4 linked regions of the Homo sapiens genome follow. The protein of the gene in region 1 purifies or fractionates together with the protein of each later gene. This does not show direct contact. Each region holds a gene or a part of one and is shown in the gene's direction. Other genes may lie near its edges.

Region 1 (5,124 bases):
TATTTCCATGTGATGTTGGCTCTGTGAGTCTTATATCAGTACTGTTTCCCCAATTGACGCACTCTCTAATTTTTTATGCAAAACCTTGCTACAAAATGAGAGTGCTTCTGGTATGATTGTCAAATTTTATTTATTTTTTTAATAGTGCATACACATGGTTTGTCAAATTTTAATTTCCGACTTAAGTATGAAGAAATAGTACAGGTGGCAAAGCACTACCATCCATAAGTCTATAAAATATAAAATAGCCATATTAGCTAAATAAAGAACTCTTAAAATTTTCCCAGGAATTTCATTTGAAACAAAACATGTAGTTTTTCTTAAGCTTTTGGACTGGTAAGTGGCATTTATGAAAGAAACATTCCTTCTAGCAAACTAAGATGTGCTTCTCTCTTGCAAAGTTTCCTGCTTTTCGCCATTGAATTTTAAATCATTCTTCAACAAAGCCTGTCAAGAATAAGTAACATGATGTCCTCTTTAGTGCCTTCCACTCCATCCAATTACCATCTCAATACTTAATATTGATGATTGGGTGCATCCATGATTCTGATCATTTCTTACTGTGGTTGATGTGTCCACTTATCTAGATCTGTGTACCCTTTTTGTCTTTATTTGAAAGTATGTGAAATATTATCTGTTTTAAAGTGTTTTAGGCTGGGCATAGTGGCTCACGCCTGTAATCCCAGCACTTTGGGAGGCCAAGGCAGGCGGATCATTTGAGGTCAGGAGTTCAAAACCAGCATGGCCAACATAGTGAAACCCCATCTCTACTAAAAATACAAAAATTAGCCAGGCATGGCCAGGCGCAGTGGCTCACGCGTGTAATCCCAGCACTTTGGGAAGCCGAGGCAGGCAGATTATGAGGTCAGCAGATCGAGACCATCCTGGCTAACACAGTGAAACCCTGTCTCTACTAAAAATACAAAAAATTAGCTGGGCGTGGTGGCGGGCGCATGTAGTCCCGGCTACTCTGGAGGCTGAGGCAGAAAAATGGCATGAACCCAGGAGGCGGAGCTTGCAGTGAGCCGAGAGCGCGCCACTGCACTCCATCCTGGGCAACAGAGCTGCCGTCTCAAAAAAAAGATTAGCCAGGCATGATGGTGGGTGCCTGTAATCCCAACTACTCAGGAGGCTGAGGCAGGAGATTCGCTTGAGCCCAGGAGGTGGAGGTTGCAGTGAGCAGAGAACGCACCACTACACTCCAGTCTGGTGACAGAGCAAGGCTCCATCGCAAAACAACAACAACAACAACAAAAAAAAAACACAAAAGTATTTTAAAGCTGTTTATTCTACTGGAACACATTTGATGTAAGTATTAATTTGGTACAACCTTTTATGGGGGCCAGTTCAACATTATGTATCAAATAGTTTAAAGTTTTTAAACTTTTTAACCCAGTAATTACACTTCCAGGACTTTAATATGATGTTGCAGATGCACATTTAACAAATGAAAGAAATATATGTCAGCTAGAAAAAAGCATATTACTGAATAATTTGTATGACATAATTCCCAATGTTGGGAAAAAAGAAGTTTGTATCTGCACATACACACACACACACACACACACACACACACACACACACACACAAGATTGGAAGGATAGACACTGAAAAGTGACCTCTGGCCTCATCCGTGATTTTATTTATTTCTTTAAAATTTTTACAGTAACATACCTGGTGTTTGAGATACTTTTCTAAAAAATCAATTTTTTAATACCTACCACTCAAAAGGCCATGAATATTGAATGGGCTTTGCACAATGCCCAGGCAAAAGCAACAACAGCAAACGAAGAAACAATGTGCACTCCAACACTTGGTGAAATCTGCTTGATGATTTGAGAAGTGATAAAAATAGATTTTGTGATTACAATAGCTTTTGAAGCTAAAGCTTTGCACATGACAGAGCTTTCATGCTAGTGGCCCACAGCACTGGGTTGAGTCATTTACTAAATGGAAAAAAATGATTGAAAAATTAATGTTGGGCTTTATTTCTGAAGTCTCATTGACAAGAAGAAAATAACAAAGCTGTTTTTCATTTTGTTTATCCTGAAAGTCTTCAACAAGTGATTACTCAAAGTTCTTAGAGCAGTTGTTTCTCTTCTATGCTGTCTAGATCTCCAGATCACACTAAGTTTGTGGGAAGCTTCAAAACCAAACAAGACTTCATAGATTTGATTGAAGTAATCTATCGAGGAGCAATGAGGGGGAAGCTTATTGTCCAAAGTCCTATTGATCCCAAGAATATTCCCAAATATGACCTTCTCTATCAAGACATTTAGTACATTAATTGCTGTCAAAGATGAAGAAGAAGGCACATCTTGACACAGTACCTGAATCCAGCTGTGCTGTGTTTCTGGAGTCCTTTGGAAACATGTGTCCCAGAGGAGAAGAGGTTTGACTTGCGTGTAGAAAACCCGGCCCCTGAGGAAAAGACCCCACTGGTTCTCTGATGACCTGGGATGCCTAACTGTCTACTCCCTGCAAGCCTCAGAGCAGCCAAGTCATTGGTGTTCATTTTCCCCACAGTGATTTTTGTAACTTCTCTTTCTAATGTTTTTCTTTATCCCTTTAATACAGAACCCTCCCAAACATTGGCTAGTACAACTTGATTTCATCATGTTCATTTGATACACAAGTGAACTGGAAAGTCACTTCCCATAGAAGCAAAAGTACTTATTTTCTACCCTAGCTGGGTGCATGTGTGTGCACACACACACACACACACACCCCCACACCCCTTTGCCGGTTCCTCGACTCATACATCCCTCGTGCTTTCCCATCTCCAGTCTGTATTACTGTAGGTTCTCTTCAAATAATTAATTGAGCAGACAAGTTTGTTTTATTTTGGAGCCTTTTTGGCTCTGGCTTTTAAACATTGTCCTGGTTGGCTCATTTAATTTTTTTTTTTTTTTTTGAGACCGAGTCACTCTTGTCACCCAGGCTGGAGTGCAGTGGCGCGATCTCGGCTCACTGCAAGCTCCACCTCCTGGGTTCATGCCATTTTCCTGCTTCAGCCTCCTGAGTAGCTGGGACTACAGGCGCCCGCCACCATGCCCAGCTAATTTTTTGTATTTTTATAGAGGCGCAGTTTCACCGTGTTAGCCAAGATGGTCTCGATCTCCTGACCTCGTGATCTGCCCTCCTCAGCCTCCCAGGTGCTGGGATTATAGGCGTGAGCCACCGCGCGCACCCCATTTAATTATTTTTTATGTTATAAAATTTAATATGGAAAGTGAGAATTTGAACCTTCACCATCCACCACTCTATTCAGGTAAAACAATGAATGAGCCACCTTAGCAGGAGCAGATTTTTCCCAGAAGCTGCTGCCTCTTCCTGAGGCAGAAAATTGGATTACTAAGGCTCAAAACTAAAAGAGATGTCAGCATTGTTGGATAGAAATGTCACCTATATGGGATTTGCCTGTTTTAATAACTTTGTAAGGAATTCTTGCTCTTCTAGGGGTGCCTGGCGCAACCGTGGGCAAGTTACTGCTCCTCTTTAAACCTCGTGGTGGTTATTGAAACAGATTTATTAGAAGGAGAGGGTAGGTGCAGAGCTGGAGAGCCATGGGTGAGGCAGCTTGTGACCTGCCTAGCAGCCGCTGACCACCTCTCCAACAGAAGCCTAGTCCTGTTCAGAGCAGCACTGTCACTGCAAGTCCAGCCCCCTTTGCCAGGGGCTCCATTCCACCCCTTTCCTGCAGGGAGGGGTGCCATGAGTCTTGCTTTTGGCTCATACAGGAGAGAGGGAAGGCTGCCAGGCACTGCTTGTATCCCTGCTGATAAGAGGAGGGAGTCACTCCAGGAATAAGACAAAAGGAGAGGAGGAGGCCATCACCTCTGGCCTCTTCCATCGTACACTTCCTGTCTCTGGTTTAATCATGATGCATGGAGCTACAACAGCCATCTTAGGTCCCCGAGGTGCCCAGCATCACGTAAAACATCGATATGCTAAGAAGAACAAAAAGAGCCCAATCTCTGATGTTATTGAGCTCCTGCATGAACTCTGGACCTGCCTGCCTCAGACTTCTGTGAAAGAATAAAATTTCTTTTTGCCTAAGTCACTGTTAGTTGGGTTTTCTGTTCTTCAGCCCAGATCACACAGTATTTGCGGTATGGTAAGCACTCAGCGCACCAGCCAAAACTCAGAACCTGCGTGTGCAAAATTATCATGTCTTCTTCCTCCTGTTAGAAATAAGTTCTCTTATTTCTGAGTGCCGCAGAGGAAGAGGAGCACTCAGAAGAAAAGTTTCTCAGCAAGGCAAAGTTTACTTCTGCAGAAGGGTGCTGCCCGCGCCTATAGCAGTCGCAAAAGCACACCTAACAAAGGAGAACAGGTTTCTAACCCTAACGCAGTTCCTGCTTCTTTGTCTTTCCCCCATTGGCTGGGGTTGGACCGCACAGTCTAGGCTGACTCCAATTGGCTATGCGCTTGAATCTTTCTCAAATAAGGCAGAGGGTAAAGGTTACAGGTTAAGGTTTGGAGCAAGGCGGTTTACAGCCTATGACAAGAAAGTTGGATCTTTGAAGAGGAACCTTTCTTTTATTCTGACAATTTCCCCCTTTTTGTTGTTATAATTCTTCCTCTTCAAATTATTTTAGTAAGATTTGGCTTTGTTGCTCTTCTTGATTGTCTAGGAGTAAAAGTTGGTCTGAATATGGAGGGGGAGAGACAGAGAAGGTTTTAGTGCAAGCCATTTCTATGAGTCTTTGAACTAACCCACAAACACAAGGTGTGATGCAACAGCCTACAAGGATGAGTGCACTTGTAACAATGGCAAGGGAAGTGAGGATAGAGGCCATAAGTCCTTTCCATTTACCAAACCATCTTTTGGTTAAACCTGTGAAGGGGTCATCTATTCCAGAATTTTCAGCCAGCTCATTTGCTAGGGTGGTGAGGCCTTGTAGAGCCTTGGTAGTGGTTCCATCGGGAGCTGTGTTATTTGGGATCAAAGTACAACATTGGGCTCTGATGATTACACAAACTCTGCCGTTTTCTGCTAATGTCATGTCAAGAGCTATCCTGTTTTCCCAGGCCATTTGGCTGGTGGGACCAAATTGCTCGGCTATCCCCAAATGGTATCTCTGGTATAATTAACAAATCCTTGTTGATTGTAATATATAT
Region 2 (5,492 bases), on another chromosome or scaffold:
TTGCTATGGCCTGTCTCTGAATTTAGCAGCCCTAAATTCAAGTGTGCTGAGGTGCCGATAGCTCCACAATTTCTCATTCTTCTCTTTTCTTTCTCCTCAAAGGCTTTGGAGAGAATCACCTTGTGCAGCTGATTTACCACCAAAATGCAAATGGTTCCTGGGATCTGAATGAAGATCTAGCCAAGATCCTAGGTATGAGTTTGGAAGAAATAATGGCTGCACAGCCTGCCGAGGTAAGATTCAATGGAAAAAGGAGTATGTATGTTTTTGAGAGAGAGGTCATCATTGAGAATTGAGGTGATTCAGGACCTACCTGAGGAAGGAAAATATAGGGGGTCATAGACTAAATTAATTTGTAATAAATAGAGGCTGAAGGTTTTTCCAGTCATGTTAGAGCAGAAAGATCAAGGGATTAATGGGGAAGCTAGTAGGAATTGATGGGGTTTTTTTTGCTGGTGGATGACAAAGGGAAAGCAAAAATCCTCTTCCACTTTAATCGTATTCCCTGCCAATCATCTTGGTTATGTAACTAATACTTAGTGAGCAATTACTCTGTGCCAAGCACTGTGCTAAGCAGTTAATATTCATGAGCTTATTTATTTCACACATTAATTTAATAAGGTAGATCCCATTTGTGTTGCTGTTTATAGATGAAGAAACTGAAGTTCAGGGAGGTCTAAAAATGTGTCTGAGTTTACCTAGCCCATCAGTGGCAGAGCCAGATTCAGTTCTAAGAGTATCTGTCTTGAGAACCCCCAATAATAACCTCATTATTGCTCCTCTTCATACCGATGAAAGTGGTCCAGACATTGGCAAAAGTTAACTGAAGTCAGGATAGGTAAAGTGTTGTTACTAGGAACCACCTAGTTGTTTCAGATGTATTTAAATATGCTGATAAGGATAAATTGCATTCCAGAATTTCAAGGTAACTTACAAAATCTTCTAACGCTCATTGAGAAGTTGTTAGGCATGAGACAGGTGCAAAAAGCCTGAAGGACAAATATCATTCTAAACTTTCAAAATGTGGAAGGAGATCAAATAAATTTCAGATATTCTGCAATTCCACTGTCCAATACAGTATCCACTAGTCACATGTGGCTATTGTGCCTTTGAAACGTGGCTAATACAAATGAGGAACTGAATTTTTAATTCAATAGAGGTGTGCTATGGTGGGAAATACATACTAATTGCAAAGACTTTTATAAAAAGGAATAAAACATTTCATCAATAATTATTTTTATATTGATTGCATGTTAAAATGATGACTTTTTAATAGATTGGGTTAAATAAAATATATCAGTAAAATAATTATACCTCTTTTACTTTTTAAAATTTGGCTACCAGAAAATTTAAAATTACATATGTTTCTAGCATTATATTTTTATTGGAAAATGCTGTTCTAGAAAAGTAATTAAGATGATAATTCATACACACTTGGAAGAGGATACAGGGATTATTAGATGCACTGGGAACAAAAAACTTCAGACTGACATTTCCTTCTTTGGAATGGTAACCAGGCCAATGAATCAAGTGAACCAACAGACCTGGTATATCTGAATTTCAGTAAGGAATTTGATTTTTTTTTTAATGATGAGAACATGGACCAAGTACAAATTAGTTGAAAACCTATGGCGCTGAATGATGAATTGATTTCAAACATGAAACAGATTTTTAGACCCACCAGGCTCTGAATTCTCTGGAGGTCCACAGTTTCAATGAAGATTTAGATGAAGATAAAGACCAAGACTTTCCTATTTGTAGATGACAAAACTGGGAGATAAACTATCAGTCAAAAGAATCAGGATCCCAAAAAACCTCTGAACAATGAGTTGCAACTTTTCATTAAAAAAAAAGAAAAACAACATAGTAGGAATAAAAGCTAAGTACTGTTTTGGGTTCCAAATTCCCAACTCTACAGGTAGAGAAGAGAGCATTTGCACATGAAAATCAGAGGTTTTAGATGACTACAACTGTGTGAATCAGAATATTTAACTAAGAAATGGAGGACAACAGGGTTACCTGAAATGGGCTGTGATTGTAGAATTCTATAAGTACATTTACCTCCAGATAGACCATTTAAGGAGATATATTTTTAAAATCATTACGCTGTTTGTTTTTAGACTAGGAGAACAAGCGTGGGGATGCTTACTGCTTTGACATAAGCAGTCCTCTTAAGGAAGAAATGGAGGAATTGAGAATTCTAATCTGAAATAAGACCACTCAGAGAGGACATGATAGCCATTTCCAAGTTTTAAAAGTCATGATATAAAATAGGAATTTCCCTTGATCTCCTGACTCTGAAAGCTGAAGCTGGGAGCAGTGAGCGAAAACTCATGGGAGACAATTTTCTGCTGCATGGCTGAGATTTTCTATTGAGAAATAAGAGAATATAACTAGAGTCAGAATATTTGGCCTTTAGTCTCACTTCTGTCGTTTGCTAGACAGCTAAGTTTGAGCAAATCATTTTGTTAATACTTCTATATGAAATCAGTTTTCTTTCTTAAAAATGTTTATTGATATTTTTTCATGATTTCTTTGGTGGGGGGGTATAAGGGTTACAATTAAAAAAAACTTATGAAGGTTCTTTATAAACTATAAAGCAGTTTTGCCTGTGTTTCTCTTACTAGAGCTGGCCTTGTCTTAGGGGTTTCCAGAACCGTCCTGGTGGTTACACTGGATTTAAAACTTAGGATTTTCTATTTCGAGACTCAATGGATTGCTGCCCTGAGGTTTAAGGCCTGGCATTATGCCTTGCAAGTAGTATCTGGAGGTAAAGAGAGACCAGGTAACTCCATCTAGTGACATTTAGAAGGATGCTAAGTGAGGAGGGAGTGAAGCTTTTTGCATCCTTTTGAGGGACTTCCTGTGCCAACTGGAGCTCTCTATCTACTGTGCAGCTTGTGGATTCCTCAGGCTGGGCCACCATCCTGGCCGTGATCTGGCTGCACAGCAATGGTAAGGACTTGAAGTGTGAATGGGAGCTTCTGGAAAGGAAGGCCGTGGCCTGGATGCGTGCCCATGCAGGTAGGAGCACAATCCTAAGGCCTGTCTCCTTCCCCTTCCCTGGCCTGGCGGAAGGTGACCACAAGAGAGTCCCATTGTCACCTGCCTCCACCATCCTGCTTCAGATCTTTACTAATCTTTCTGCTAGTTCTTTTCTTGGGAGGACAAGGGTGAAATATTAAATTGGGGACAAGGTAGGTGGGTGAGTAGGGAGGGAGAGGGACACAAATGGGGAGTGTGAACTGTGAGAAGGACAAGTGGCATTGATTCTCCTTACTGTCTCAGTACCAAGCTGAGTAGAAGACTAGACTTGGTGCGTGTTCTCCTGGCTGTTTGTTATCTCACTGCAGCTGAGTGTATCTGGGGCCAGAGAAGATTCAAGGAGAATCTGGGTAGCAAGAAAAGAAAAAGCAGGGATATTGAGGACAGATAAAAGCACAACTCAGGGTAGATGATCTGGGAGGTTTGGAGGAGCCTCTAATTGCAATCCTTCATCCCTGCTTCTTGTTTTTCCTCACCACAGGCTCCACCATGCCTTCGGTTGTGAAAGCTGCTATTACTTTCCTGAAGTCATCTGTGGATCCTGCTATCTTTGCCTTTTGAAGATACCATCCAGAAAAAGAAGTGCCTTTAATTTGCTACTGTCATTTCCTCTAGTATCACTTTTGCTGTGATGATGTGTTCTTGTGTATTATAACTCTTTATTTTTTGCCATAAAAGTAAAGGATGCTTACTCCACTTCGCTTCTCTGCTCCAGGTTCACTTTGGATATGATCTTTCTTTTCCCAACATATGCCCTCAGAAAAGTGACAGTGGTCCCAGAACCTATTCCCTTTCTTGAGGGAGTTCAAAACATTCATAGGCAGTAATGTTCCTCCCAGGGTTTCCAGGGAAACAACATGAAAAACAGGTGACATGAACTACAGACTAAAGATTGCAGCATTTATGTTAGAGAATGCTTGAATTAGAGAATTTTCTGCATTATCTTTGTCTGTTCACTTTCTATCTTATATACTTATCAGGGCCATACTGGTAAGCTTGCGTAGGAGGAGTTAGAGGGAAGTTGAAAGCCAACATCTGGATCAATGTAATGTCAAGATCACAAAGACAGAGACTGCAGGGGTCCACTGTGAGAGGTGACACTGTTGGGGACCTTCCTGATTCATTCTTCTTGGGCTTTGCTAGCCTGTACAACCTACATGTCTTTTCTTCCACTGCCTGAAAGACTTGGGTTGAACTATAACTGTTGGAGAGAGATGTTCCTCTTTAATCATGAAACACCTTAAGAAGTCTATAATGCAATCCTTAGTCCTACCCTGAACCTATGTGTCCTCTAAGTCAGGCCCTGATCTAGTGCAGTAAAGGGAAGGGTGGGCTTAATGGGAGCTTTGCCTGGGACCTGAACCTGGAGCACTTACCGCATTAGGAAGAAAGGAGCTCCCCGTAATCGTTCCTGACCCTTGTGTCTCATATACCCTATCCTGGTGGAAATGACCCTATTTGATATGCTGTCCCTTAAAATAACTTGTATCAATATTAAAATGACTATTTCTACCCTTTGATGAGTAAATGCAGTGGTTCTTAAAGTGGTCTCGTCTCCCTACCCCACAATATTTTGGTACTGCCACTTTGGGAAGCCAAACTAGGATAGTAAATTGACCGGAACACAGTTGTGGAAATTTGACCTGAAGTTAGTGAAATAAAACTTAGTAGGGAAAAAAAGCTTAGCAAGAGGTCTACTCCTCCATAGATTCATTTATTGAACTTACATTGGTTTTATTGTCCCTTGTTTTCTGTTCCAGCTTTTCTGATGCCTCCACTGTTCCCATGGTATCCTGACCCTCTATCTTCTGTTGTAGGCTGACTTCTTTTATATGAAGCAAGTAAAGGATACTAATAAGAATACCACTGTAGAATCCTGACCATACCCTTAAATAGTTATGTGATGATGGGCAAATGATTTCACCCTCAGGCACTTAATATCCTCATCTGTAAAACTAAGGGATTAAACTAGAACTTTATTAACACTTTCGAGTTCCACTCAGAATTCCTAGAGGAACATCGGTGACTTTTCACTCAGAAAGTGGGTGGACTAGGCCTGAGTTTCTTTAAGTTGTTGAGTTACCTGGTATTAGGAAGACTTGTGTGACTTGCATAGTGGACTCTAATCTCTCAGTCTTTCTTCCAAGTTTGTTTATGCTGAATGTGATCTGCGGAACAGGGTTGTTAGAAATGCAGCTTTTTAGAAATGCAGAATTTTAATCGATACCAGGAACTACTTTATTTAACAAGGCTCCCAGGTATCATGCATGCACATTGAAGTTTGAAAAGTAAAGGCTTAATATTTTCATGAAATAGGCTTATATCCAAGCCTGCCATCTAGATAGGCCCTACCTATGTAATTTCAGAAAATAGTTTCTTAAGGACCGTGAAACTTGTATAGTTAACCTCTGTGCACACAATGCTGTGACTTTACATTTATTATGCGG
Region 3 (5,492 bases), on another chromosome or scaffold:
ACACTGAGGTGACTGTCCTGACTGCGTTTCTTGGTGTGTATTGGAGAGAATATTGGGAGAACTAGGACTGTACAGGTGGATTAAAGAGTTTTGAAAACCAGGAAAAGTTTATATTTACAAACTGAAAAGAAAATTTACAGCCAATGTAAAAAAAAACTTTTTTTGAGGTGTAGTCTTGCTCTATCACCCAGGCTAGAATGCAGTGGCACGATATCAACTCACTGCAACCTCTGCCTCCCGGGTTCACGCGATTCTCCTGCCTCAGCCTCCCAGGTAGCTGGGACTACAGGCATGTGCCACCACGCCTGGCTAATTTTTTTGTATTTTTAGTAGAGATGGGGTTTCACCATGCTGGCAGGCTGGTGTCGAACTCCTGACCTCAACTGATCCACCCGCCTCGGCCTCCCAAATTGCTGGGGTTACAGACGTGAGACTCCATGCCCATCCCAATGTATATATTTTTAAATGGAATATTAACATCAGCAGGTTAGTCTGGTATTGGTACATAGAATAGGTTAGGTATGATGGCAAGAGCTAGAACACTTGTGGAGTAATGAGGTATATGCCTCCTTACAAGTATATGTTGGTGCAAAAGTAATTGCAGTTTTTGCCATTCCTAATACTAGCATTCTAAATGTCAAAGGGCATAAATCTAAGGTATTTTAAAGAAAGTAATAACAGGGCTTTGTAAACAGTAAGATTGAAGACAGTAAGCTTAGGGGAAAAGATGTATGGAGAGTCTTAACACTTGAATCAGACTACAACAGTGTATATTTTTCACATAATAGATTTATATTGCATATTGTGGCCTGGAGAAAAAGTTCAGTGCCCTATAAACCAAAATGTCTGATCTCTTAGAATGCCTCATTTCCTAATATGTCCGAAGATGAGTATTTCCTAAATTTGTTTCCAATTTAAATATTTTGAGCACATTTCAACAAATGTCAGAGACTTACAAAATAGGAAAGGATATACCCTAAGAGACTGTAAGCTTCTTGGGGGCTTTTTGACACTAATTTTAGAGTGTTTAGAAACTTTTTAACATTCATTTTTGTAACCCCAGCACAGTGCATAACATTTTGTAAATGTTCATTTTTTGTGGAAAAGTGAATTCAAACTTTTGTTTAAAATTTGCTTTTTATGTGTGGCTAATTCTACGCAGTGAATAAATAAGCTATGCATAAATAACCATGTGTTAACTACAATTTTATAAAGGTTTGTGTGTTTTTTTTCTGGTTGTAGAAAGGTATATTTACTTTTATTGTTCTTTAAAGAGTAATGACCTGTTCATTAGCTTACACCTGTTTTGCAACATTTTAGGCATTGTATGAGAGGAAATTTCCAGTTCCAAAGCCAATTGATTACAATCGTCATGCAGTGGTCATGGAACTCATAAATGGTTATCCACTGTAAGTATTCATTATTCTTAAAGCCATGAATCCTGATAAATGAATTTAAGTTTCAGGGTTTTTAATAAAATTTTTTTTAGTTAATGAAATATTGCCTCTGGGAGGTTAAAATTTATTTAAAGGAATAGACTCAAAGACAAATTAAAAACCCAGTTTCATTCTGACAATATGAACTTTGTAATCTCTGTGATTCATTCATTCATTCAATATTAAGAGACTGTTAGGTGCCAGGAACTTTTAATCTCAGCAGTGAACAAAACAAAGTCCCTGCCCTCATGGAATTTACATTCTGATGGAAGGAGATGTGCAATAAATAACTAAAGGAAATGTATATCAATTGTTAGTAAGTACTATGGATAAAAAAAAGCAGAGTAAGGGAGATAGGAAGTACTAACGGGACAGGAGACTACTGTTTTATGTAGGGTGGTCAAGAAAAGTCTCACTAATAAGGTGAAACCTCATCAAATTTTGATTCAGATTAGCAGCTATTGGAGTGGGAGTATTTTGAGCAGAGAAGAGATGTGATCTCATCAATCAGTGATCTCAGTGTTTTCAGAGGGTCACTCTGCTTGCTGAATTAATAGACTCTGGGGAGACAAAGAATTAGGAAGACAAGTTAAGAGGCTATTACAATAATCTAGGCAAGAAATGGTTGTAATTCTGATTACAGTGATAGTTGTGAAGGTGATGAAAAGTGGTCAGATTCTGAATGTGTTCTGCAGGTTGAACCAACATGATTTGAGATTGGATATGGATGTGAAGGAAGGGATGAGTCAATGGTGACACCAAGGTTTTTCCCCTGAGTAGCAAATTAACTGGAAGGAGAAATCTACCATGTATAGAAACAGGAAAGCTACAGGAACAGCATTTTGGAGTTGGAGGGTGGGACAGAATCAGAGATTCCATTTTGGACATGCTAAGTTTGAGATGCCTGGGAGTTAGAGAAGTCTACATTAAAATCAGTGTATATGTGGTATTTAAACCATTAACCTAGATGAGATCACCAAGAATGAGTCTAAATAAGAGAAAATAAAAGGTCATAGGATTGACCTTTGAGGAACTCCAGAATTTAGAGGTCAAGGAAAAAGATGAAGTACAAATAGAAAAGACTAAGAAGGTATGATCTGTGAGGAAGGAAGAACACCTGGAGAGAATGGTGTCCCAAGAGTTAAGTGAAGAAAATGTTCAAAGAGGTCAACTGACAGACCACATATGATGAGGACTAAGAATTGACCTTTGGATTTAGCAACATTGAAGTCATTGTAGTCTCAACAAGGGTGATCTTGGAAGCACTTTGGCCTCCCAAAGTGCTAGGATTACAGGGGTGAGCCATTGCGCCTGGCCCGTACATGCTATTATTGATTCTGGATGTGGGTGTGTTTGTTTAGAATATAATCATTTTTTCATAATTTTTCAATTTTGTGATACTATTATTTAGGTCACTCACTGGTTTGAAGTGGCTAGTGTTAACGTTATAAAAAGCCTGTTTGAAATGGTATGAGAGAGTAGGAGGAAACAAATTGGAAAAGCACATGTAGACAAGTTTGGCTGTAAAGATCAAAGAAAGGTAGTAGTAGAAAAGAGATACAGAATTGAAGCAGTGTGGCTATTTTTTTAATAGATGGGAGATATTATATCTGTGTGCTGATGGGAATGAGAAGAAAGCTGCTGGGGATACACAGCATGGAAATAATATATATGTTCACATGCATACATACTTTCGTTAAAACCGTAAATGAACACAAGTAACCTATTTTCATGCTTAAAATACTTTCAGATGTCAGATACACCATGTTGAAGATCCTGCATCAGTATATGATGAAGCTATGGAACTAATTGTCAAACTTGCAAATCATGGGCTGATTCATGGAGATTTTAATGAATTTAATCTCATTTTGGATGAAAGTGACCATATCACCATGATTGATTTTCCACAGATGGTTTCAACTTCTCATCCCAATGCTGAGTGGTACGTACTTGCTATTTTTTTATTTTTATTTTATTTTATTTTTTTGGAGACGGAGTTTTGCTTGTTGCCCAAGCTGGAGTGCAATGGCGCGATCTCGGCTCACTGCAACTTCCACCTCCCGGGTTCAAGCAATGCTCCTGCCTCAGCCTCCCGAGGAGCTGGGATAACAGACATGTGCCACCACACCTGGCTAATTTTTTGTATTTTTTTTTTTAGTAGAGATGGGGTTTCTCCATGTTGGTCAGGCTGGTCTTGAACTCCTGACCTCAGGTGATCCACCCGCCTCGGCCTCCCAAAGTGCTGGGATTACAGGGGTGAGCCATTGCGCCCGGCCCTTACATGCTATTATTGATTCTGGATGTGGGTGTGTTTGTTTAGAATATAATCATTTTTTCATAATTTTTCAATTTTGTGATACTATTATTTAGGTCAGTCACTGGTTTGAAGTGGCTAGTGTTAACGTTATAAAAATTTGGTTTTTTATTAAAGTATAACTACTAGAGTTTTCCCCATAAGAATTTGAATTTCTCTGTTGTAAATTGACAGACGTTCAAAAGTCAAATTTTCTTAGCCATGGAACCCTTTGTTCAAACAGACTTTTAGATGGAAGACCAATTGTTAAAACAGGTAAAAGTAGGGAGTGTAGTGGGGAACTCTAGAACCACTTTTGTCTTTCCCTTTTTCTTGCTGTTCCATGATTGCCTCCAAGAGAGATTCACCAAGTATAACTCAGTAATCTCGATGATCTGAATAAAAGTTGTGGTTTTGGACTGGACTCAGTTGTCAAACCAGTGATAATTACCTCTTGTCACTTTTAGCTTTATTTATTAGAAAAAAAATCACATAAAACTTTATCTCTGACACAGTGCAGAATCATGATATACTGCGATAATCATATTCTTCACATTACTTATTTAAACCAAGCCAGCCAAGTCATGAAACAGGACCTTATCCTTTATTTGCTTGAGGTTTATGATTCAATTGAGTGTAACTAAGGATTTTTTTTTCTTTCTGTTCCAAGCTTTATGAGAAACTTTTTTCCTAAACTAACAACTAGTATCACTTATATAATAGAGTATATTAATTCTTCCAGAGATTGAGCTTGAAGTAGTTTTGTTAAGTGAAGCGTCTCTTCATCCTGGTTTCCAGTAGAAAATGTCTATACTTATGCTACAGAAAGAAATGTCATTTGAAAATAAATTTTTAAAACGTTTTCAACAAAATAATACTAAAAGATTAATGCCTGGCACTGGGGTGGTCAGTACTCTTTGGATGATGACTAATCATGATTTTTATTAATAAGGAGTAACATAGTCACACAGTAAAGGAACATCTAGGAGCCTCCAGAGTGTGACAGATTATGACATTCTAGGTTTAGGCTGCATCGTTCTATGGAGAGACATTGTGATTTAATTTCAATTTTTATGAACCAGTTCTGGGGCCAAGGAGCTGTGCTAATTGCTAGAGATTGAGATATAAATAACCCCTATATATGCTTTAGAAAATGTTACTGTCTCGTAGGGAGATGTAAACATATATAAAATAGTCTTTTTAAAATGTATTAGTATTTTTCCCAGAGTACCCTGTGAGCAAAGAGGAGAGGCATTATCTTCCTATTTCCAAACTTCATCTTTCTCAAAGAGAGTCAATTGCACATTATCCTGTCCTTAATTCTCCCTTGTCTGGAAATCTTCTAGAGAATTGAATCCATTTTTGCTGCTTTGTGGTGGCCCAAAAAGGCAGCCTGATATTCAGATATTGTTCTACTTTTGGTCCAGATTAACATGTCCTCAGATTATTTTTATAGGCTGTAGCATTATTTATCCCTTTGGGTGTTATTGCAAATCGGCTAATGGATAACAAAGATACATAAACATAATTCAGTAGTCTCCAAACTTAACTGTTTAATATTAATATCTTTTTATCGTCAGATCTTTCAGTTGGCTAGGGGTTCTAGTGAGTGTTGCTGATAAGAAGCATAGCCAGACTCAGGACGAACAGAATAAGTGGAAACCTATCCCCAAACCATAGGCCCATTATCTTATTTCCTGGGGTTCACATTCATCTTTCCCTAGTGTATCTAACTATATACCAGTAACTATGACAAAACCTTG
Region 4 (5,492 bases), on another chromosome or scaffold:
CCCAACATTGGGGATTACCGACTGGACATGAGATTTGGGCAGGGACACGAATTCAAACCTATCACCTACTATAGTAATGCACATTTATTAGGTGTTTGCTAGGGCCTGGGTTGTATAAGTTTCTATATCATTCCTATTAAACTTGGATTTGTAGTTCATTCTGTATTTGGAATTTAATTTAACTGCCTTCTATAAAATTGAATGGTACTTTTATCACCCATATTATCTATTGGGAGGATATTATTTTTGAGGAAGATTATTAGTTAAGTTATTTTATTTTTTCATCATAAATGAGACTCCCCCCATTCCGTAATAAGCTGCTCAGAGGCAGGAACATTGCCTGTTAACAGATGTACCTTACATGCCTAGAACGGTGCTTGGCATATGTAGGCACACAATACTTCTTTGTTTTAACAAAGATTAAATTGATACTTTTTGTTGTTTTGTTTTTCCAGAATTTATTCAACAAACCAACTGGAATGAATTCTTCAGTAGTGCCCTTGTCTCAGGGCCAAGTAATTGTAAGCATCCCCACAGGTTCCACAGTGTCAGCCGGAGGAGGTAGCACATCTGCTGTTTCTCCCACCTCCATCAGTAGCTCTGCTGCAGCTGGTCTCCAGCGTCTCGCTGCCCAGTCCCAGCATGTTGGGTTTGCACGAAGTGTTGTGAAACTCAAATGTCAACACTGTAACCGTCTTTTTGCCACAAAACCAGAACTTCTTGACTATAAGGTAAAGTATAGCATGTTCATGATAAGATTTTGAGTATACGTGGGTCTATTTGTAAAATTATTTTTAACTTTGCATCTCTCAAAATCATACCATTTGTTTTGAAAGTAAGGGAGATAAGGAGTTCCATAAGACAAACCAAATGTTTAATTAGTACTTAATGATTATTTCTTTGCAGGGCAAAATGTTTCAGTTCTGTGGCAAGAATTGTTCTGATGAATATAAGAAAATAAATAATGTAATGGCAATGTGTGAATATTGTAAAATTGAGAAAATTGTAAAGGAGACTGTTCGGTTCTCAGGTGCTGACAAGTCATTCTGTAGTGAAGGTAAAGACAGAAGATTATCTTACCTACTGAGCATGTTGGTTGTTTTAAAGCAGTTGATGATGATTTAAGCTTTCACTGTCTAAGTTAATCTGTTTTATTGTTTATGTATAACGTAAATGCCTTTTCGATTCATTTACACTTAGTTCATTCTTTTTTGATCTAGTTTTCTTATATTATGTAGCTGTTAAAATGAAGTGAAAGATTTGCAAAGTATAATGCAGAAGAAGATGATGTGAAAAACATTTAACATCCTTAGGTTCCCCATTATTAGGTTGATCGGGACCTCAAAGAGCTTCTAGTTCGTGTACTTATTTCTAAATGGGATGCCTTAAATTATGGTAACATTCTAAGTTTATACTTTTATTGTCTTAAACAGCCATTATATTTCTGAATATAAATGGCTTGAATATGCAAATTAATATGTGGAAGATTGTTTTCCTTAGATAACTCTTCTATATGTTTATAATGTTTTATTTTACTCTAAAGCTGTATTAGCCTTCTAGAGCAAGGGCTTTCAAACCTTTTGATAACACCAAAGAAGAAATACATTTACACTGTGACCCAGTATATTTTCACATACCTAAATAAAAGTTTTTTTTGTTTTTGTTTTTGTTTTTTGAGACAGAGTCTTGCTTTGTCACCCAGGCTGGAATGCCATGGAGCGATCTTGGCTCACTGCAACCTCTGCCTCCTGGGTTCAAGCGATTCTCCTGCCTCAACCTCCCGAGTAGCTGGGACTACAGGCACCCGCCACCACACCTGGCTAATTTTTGTATTTTTAGTAGAGACAGGGCTTCACCATGTTGGCCAGGCTGGTCTCCAACTCCTGACCTCAGGTGATCCACCCACTTTGGCCTCCCAGAGTGCTGGGATTACAGGTGTGAGCCACTACGCCCAGCCCCAAAAGTTTCATGAAATAAAATCGATGCAGTTTAATATTTTCTCTTCTGTGCTATCCTGTCTTATATCATTTAAAACAAAAACAAAAACAAAGCAAAACAAAAACTAGTATAGATACTCTAAAAAATCAAGATACTCTGTGAACTGGTCAGGACCCAAGTGTGAAAACTTTGTCCTAGACCACTTATTTTTCTTTTTTTTGTTTTTGTTTTTATTTGACATGGGGTCTTGCCATGTTGCCCAGGCTGGTCTCAAACTCCTGGGCTCAAGCACTCCTCCCGCCAGCCTCCCAAAGTGTTGGGATTACAGGTGTGAGCCACTGCACCGGGCCTGTCCTAGGCCATTTAAAGTTGCAGAAAACTAATACTTCTACCTAATGTTAATTTTATCTTTCCTGATTTTTAGGTTGCAAATTGCTTTATAAACATGACTTGGCAAAACGCTGGGGAAATCACTGTAAAATGTGCAGTTATTGTTTACAGACATCTCCCAAATTGGTACAGAATAATTTAGGAGGGAAAGTGGAAGAGTTCTGTTGTGAAGAATGCATGTCCAAATATACAGTTTTGTTCTATCAGGTAAATAGAATTCACATTCCTGGGTTTTTCATTCTAGGGCATAAATTATTCCCTTTTAAAATTTCATGTCACATAAAGGACAATTTAATTATTTAAAACTTTTAAGTATTAAATGTTTTATGCCTTCTAGCAATTAATATAAGATTTAGAAAGACTTTAATGTTATTGAAGTTTTCTTTTGTTTTTAATTTCCTGTAGGAGACATATCAGTCTTAAGACATTAAAATATTTAAACTTATAATTTTATTCACTTATTATTTAAATAAAGTGAATTTGTCTTCTGAAGTCTGAGGAAGATAGACCTTATTTTTATTTCACTTTGTTTTTTAATTGCTATAGAGTGAAGTCTGTATGTTACATGTGTTTTTTAAAAAAAATTAGTATAAAATCAGCTGGGCGCGGTGGCTCACGCCTGTAATCCCAGCACTTTGGGAGGCCGAGGCGGGTGGATCATGAGGTTAGGAGATCGAGACCATCCTGGCTAACATGGTGAAACCCCGTCTCTACTAAAAATACAAAAAAATTAGCTGGGTGTGGTGGCGGGCGCCTGTAGTCCCAGCTACCTGGGAGGCTGAGGCAGGAGAATTGCATGAACCCAGGAGGTGGAGCTTGCAGTGAGCTGAGATCACGCCACTGCACTCCAGCCTGGGCGATAGAGCAAGGCTCTGTCTCAAAAAAAAAAAAAAATATATATATATATGTGTGTGTGTGTGTGTGTGTGTGTGTATAATCATTGATAAAGACAAACTAATTTTTTGATCTAAATTCTAAGTTAATTTCGTCACTTGTTATGTGTGTCTTATTTTTATTTTGTCAGACCACAGATAATTTGTTTCTTACTCCTTGACTACCTTCTTCTTTTTAGATGGCCAAATGTGATGCTTGTAAGCGACAGGGTAAACTCAGTGAGTCCTTGAAATGGCGAGGGGAAATGAAACATTTCTGTAACCTGCTTTGTATCTTGATGTTCTGTAATCAGCAAAGTGTATGTGACCCGCCTTCACAAAATAATGCAGGTAAAATTAACCTTAGGTACTGAATGGAGTCTTTGGTCAATACTAGGAACTACTGTTCTTTTACAGATCAGGAACTGTGTAAACAGTTGTCATTAATTTCATGAAACCTCAGTTTCCTTGTATTCTGTATCAATAACATTTAGCTTTTTTTGTTGAACACCTTATTTCACTGTCGTCCGTGTGAAGAGACCACCAAACAGGCTTTGTGTGAGCAACAAGGCTGTTTATTTCACCTGGGTGCAGGCGGTCTGAGTCTGAAAAGAGTCAGTGAAGGGAGATGGGGTGGGGCCGTTTTATAAGATTTGGGTAGGTAAAGGAAAAAGGGGGGTTGTTCTCTGGCGAGCAGGAGTGGGGGTCACAAAGTGCTCAGTGGGGGAGCTTTTTGAGCCAGGATGAGCCAGGAAAAGGAATTTCACAAGGTAATGTCATCAGTTAAGGCAGGAACAGGCCATTTTCACTTCTTTTGTGTTGGAATGTCATCAGTTAAGGCAGGAACCGGCCATCTGGATGTGTACCTGCAGGTCAGAGGGGATATGATGGCTTAGCTTGGGCTCAGAGGCCTGACACCTTAGATTAAAGCTGAGTAAAAATGAGTTTTTGATTAAATAGATTTCTTTGAGAATATTGAATCAAATAAACTCTGTAAGAACTTAAATTTATGGGAAAGGATAACAGTTAATGGTTTGTAATTGAGTATAATTGGCTTCCTTAAAAAATCCTTTGAGACTACTTATAACAAAAGACATAAAGTCAAAATCACATGGCCTTTTAAATATACCATGTGCAGGCCAGATGTGATGGTTCATGCCTGTAATCCCACCGCCTTTGGAATGCTGAGGTGGGAGGACGGCTTGAGGCCAGGAGTTCAGGGGTGGAGTGAGCGGTGACCACAGCACAGCAATCCCAGCTGGATGATATAGTGAGACCCTGCCTCTAAAAAATTAAAATAAAATAAAACTATATGTCGTGGGCGTGACTAGTTGGGGCCAGTGTCACGGGCTGTAAAGGAATTTACCAAGACAGTCATAGGTAAAGGCAGATTTATTGGAGAAAGTGTGAAAATATGTTGCAAGGTTGCAGTGAGCAGCACAGCAGAGAAGGGGAAGTCTGCAAAGACGCAGCGGCTTGAGGGACGTTTTACATGGTCCTGCTGGAGGGGACTGCTTGCAGAATGTAGCCGTGCTCCTGGGGCTACCTGTAGGAGGTCATCTCTCAGAGTAATTACTCATTGTTCTCCCCCACCTGGGCCCCTTCCTCTTTGTTGCTTACTTACCTTGTCAGGACTTACTTATCTTATCAGGACTACACACTATGTGCTAGGCCACTTTATCTCAGAAAATTTATTATTTAAAAACAACACTAGTATCATCCTGAAAGCTAGAAGAATTTAAGTGTAGTCTCCTTACAAATAAAAGCAAAATCTACAAGAGCCTACTCCAAAACTTAAAAAAAAATTATTTCTATATAAAGGCAAGATTTAAGAAAAACATTAGGCTGAATTGTCCATTAAATCTAACCTGTGATCTTCATTGGTATTGTGTGTTTGAGGATTTGCATTGTTGGTTTTTAAGTTGGTTTTTAAGTTAGACTATTTGTTGCCTTTTTTATGTAAAGATAAAGTTAATAGAAAACTTTCAAGTTTTACTAATTAAAAAGTAGAAAACCAGGGTATGGTGGCTCATGCCTGTAATCTCAGCACTTTGGGAGGCTGAGGCAGGCGGATCACGAGGTCAGGAGTTTGAGACCATCCTGGCCAACATGGTGAAACCCCGTCTCTACTAAAATACAAAAAATTAGCTGGGTGTGGTGCTGCGCACCTGTAGTCCCAGCTACTTGGGAGGCTGAGGCAGGGGAATCGCTTGAACCCGGGAGGTGGAGGTCGCTGTGAGCTGATATCGTGCCACTGCACTCCAGCCTGGGCAGCAGAGTGAGACTCTGTCT

The links.
Region 2: the proteins of TXNL4B (region 1) and VWA5A purify together in Homo sapiens (affinity purification with mass spectrometry; one large-scale study listed by BioGRID and IntAct). This does not show direct contact.
Region 3: the proteins of TXNL4B (region 1) and RIOK2 purify together in Homo sapiens (affinity purification with western blotting, with the first as the bait; one study listed by BioGRID). This does not show direct contact.
Region 4: the proteins of TXNL4B (region 1) and ZMYM4 purify together in Homo sapiens (affinity purification with mass spectrometry; one large-scale study listed by BioGRID and IntAct). This does not show direct contact.

The regions. Positions count from the first base shown.
Region 1 is NC_000016.10:72,083,792-72,088,915, reverse strand, and holds the end of TXNL4B (thioredoxin-like protein 4B), read left to right. Parts: intron 1-2,113; coding exon 2,114-2,279; 3' UTR 2,280-3,740; coding exon of another isoform or gene 3,741-3,810; 3' UTR 3,811-4,059; downstream 4,060-5,124. UniProt on the Homo sapiens protein: Essential role in pre-mRNA splicing. Required in cell cycle progression for S/G(2) transition.
Region 2 is NC_000011.10:124,142,340-124,147,831, forward strand, and holds the end of VWA5A (von Willebrand factor A domain-containing protein 5A), read left to right. Parts: intron 1-102; coding exon 103-233; intron 234-2,897; coding exon 2,898-3,024; intron 3,025-3,526; coding exon 3,527-3,606; 3' UTR 3,607-5,382; downstream 5,383-5,492. UniProt on the Homo sapiens protein: May play a role in tumorigenesis as a tumor suppressor. Altered expression of this protein and disruption of the molecular pathway it is involved in, may contribute directly to or modify tumorigenesis.
Region 3 is NC_000005.10:97,169,092-97,174,583, reverse strand, and holds part of RIOK2 (serine/threonine-protein kinase RIO2), read left to right. Parts: intron 1-1,320; coding exon 1,321-1,409; intron 1,410-3,186; coding exon 3,187-3,378; intron 3,379-5,492. UniProt on the Homo sapiens protein: Serine/threonine-protein kinase involved in the final steps of cytoplasmic maturation of the 40S ribosomal subunit. Involved in export of the 40S pre-ribosome particles (pre-40S) from the nucleus to the cytoplasm.
Region 4 is NC_000001.11:35,386,548-35,392,039, forward strand, and holds part of ZMYM4 (zinc finger MYM-type protein 4), read left to right. Parts: intron 1-455; coding exon 456-731; intron 732-906; coding exon 907-1,057; intron 1,058-2,362; coding exon 2,363-2,535; intron 2,536-3,400; coding exon 3,401-3,551; intron 3,552-5,492. UniProt on the Homo sapiens protein: Plays a role in the regulation of cell morphology and cytoskeletal organization.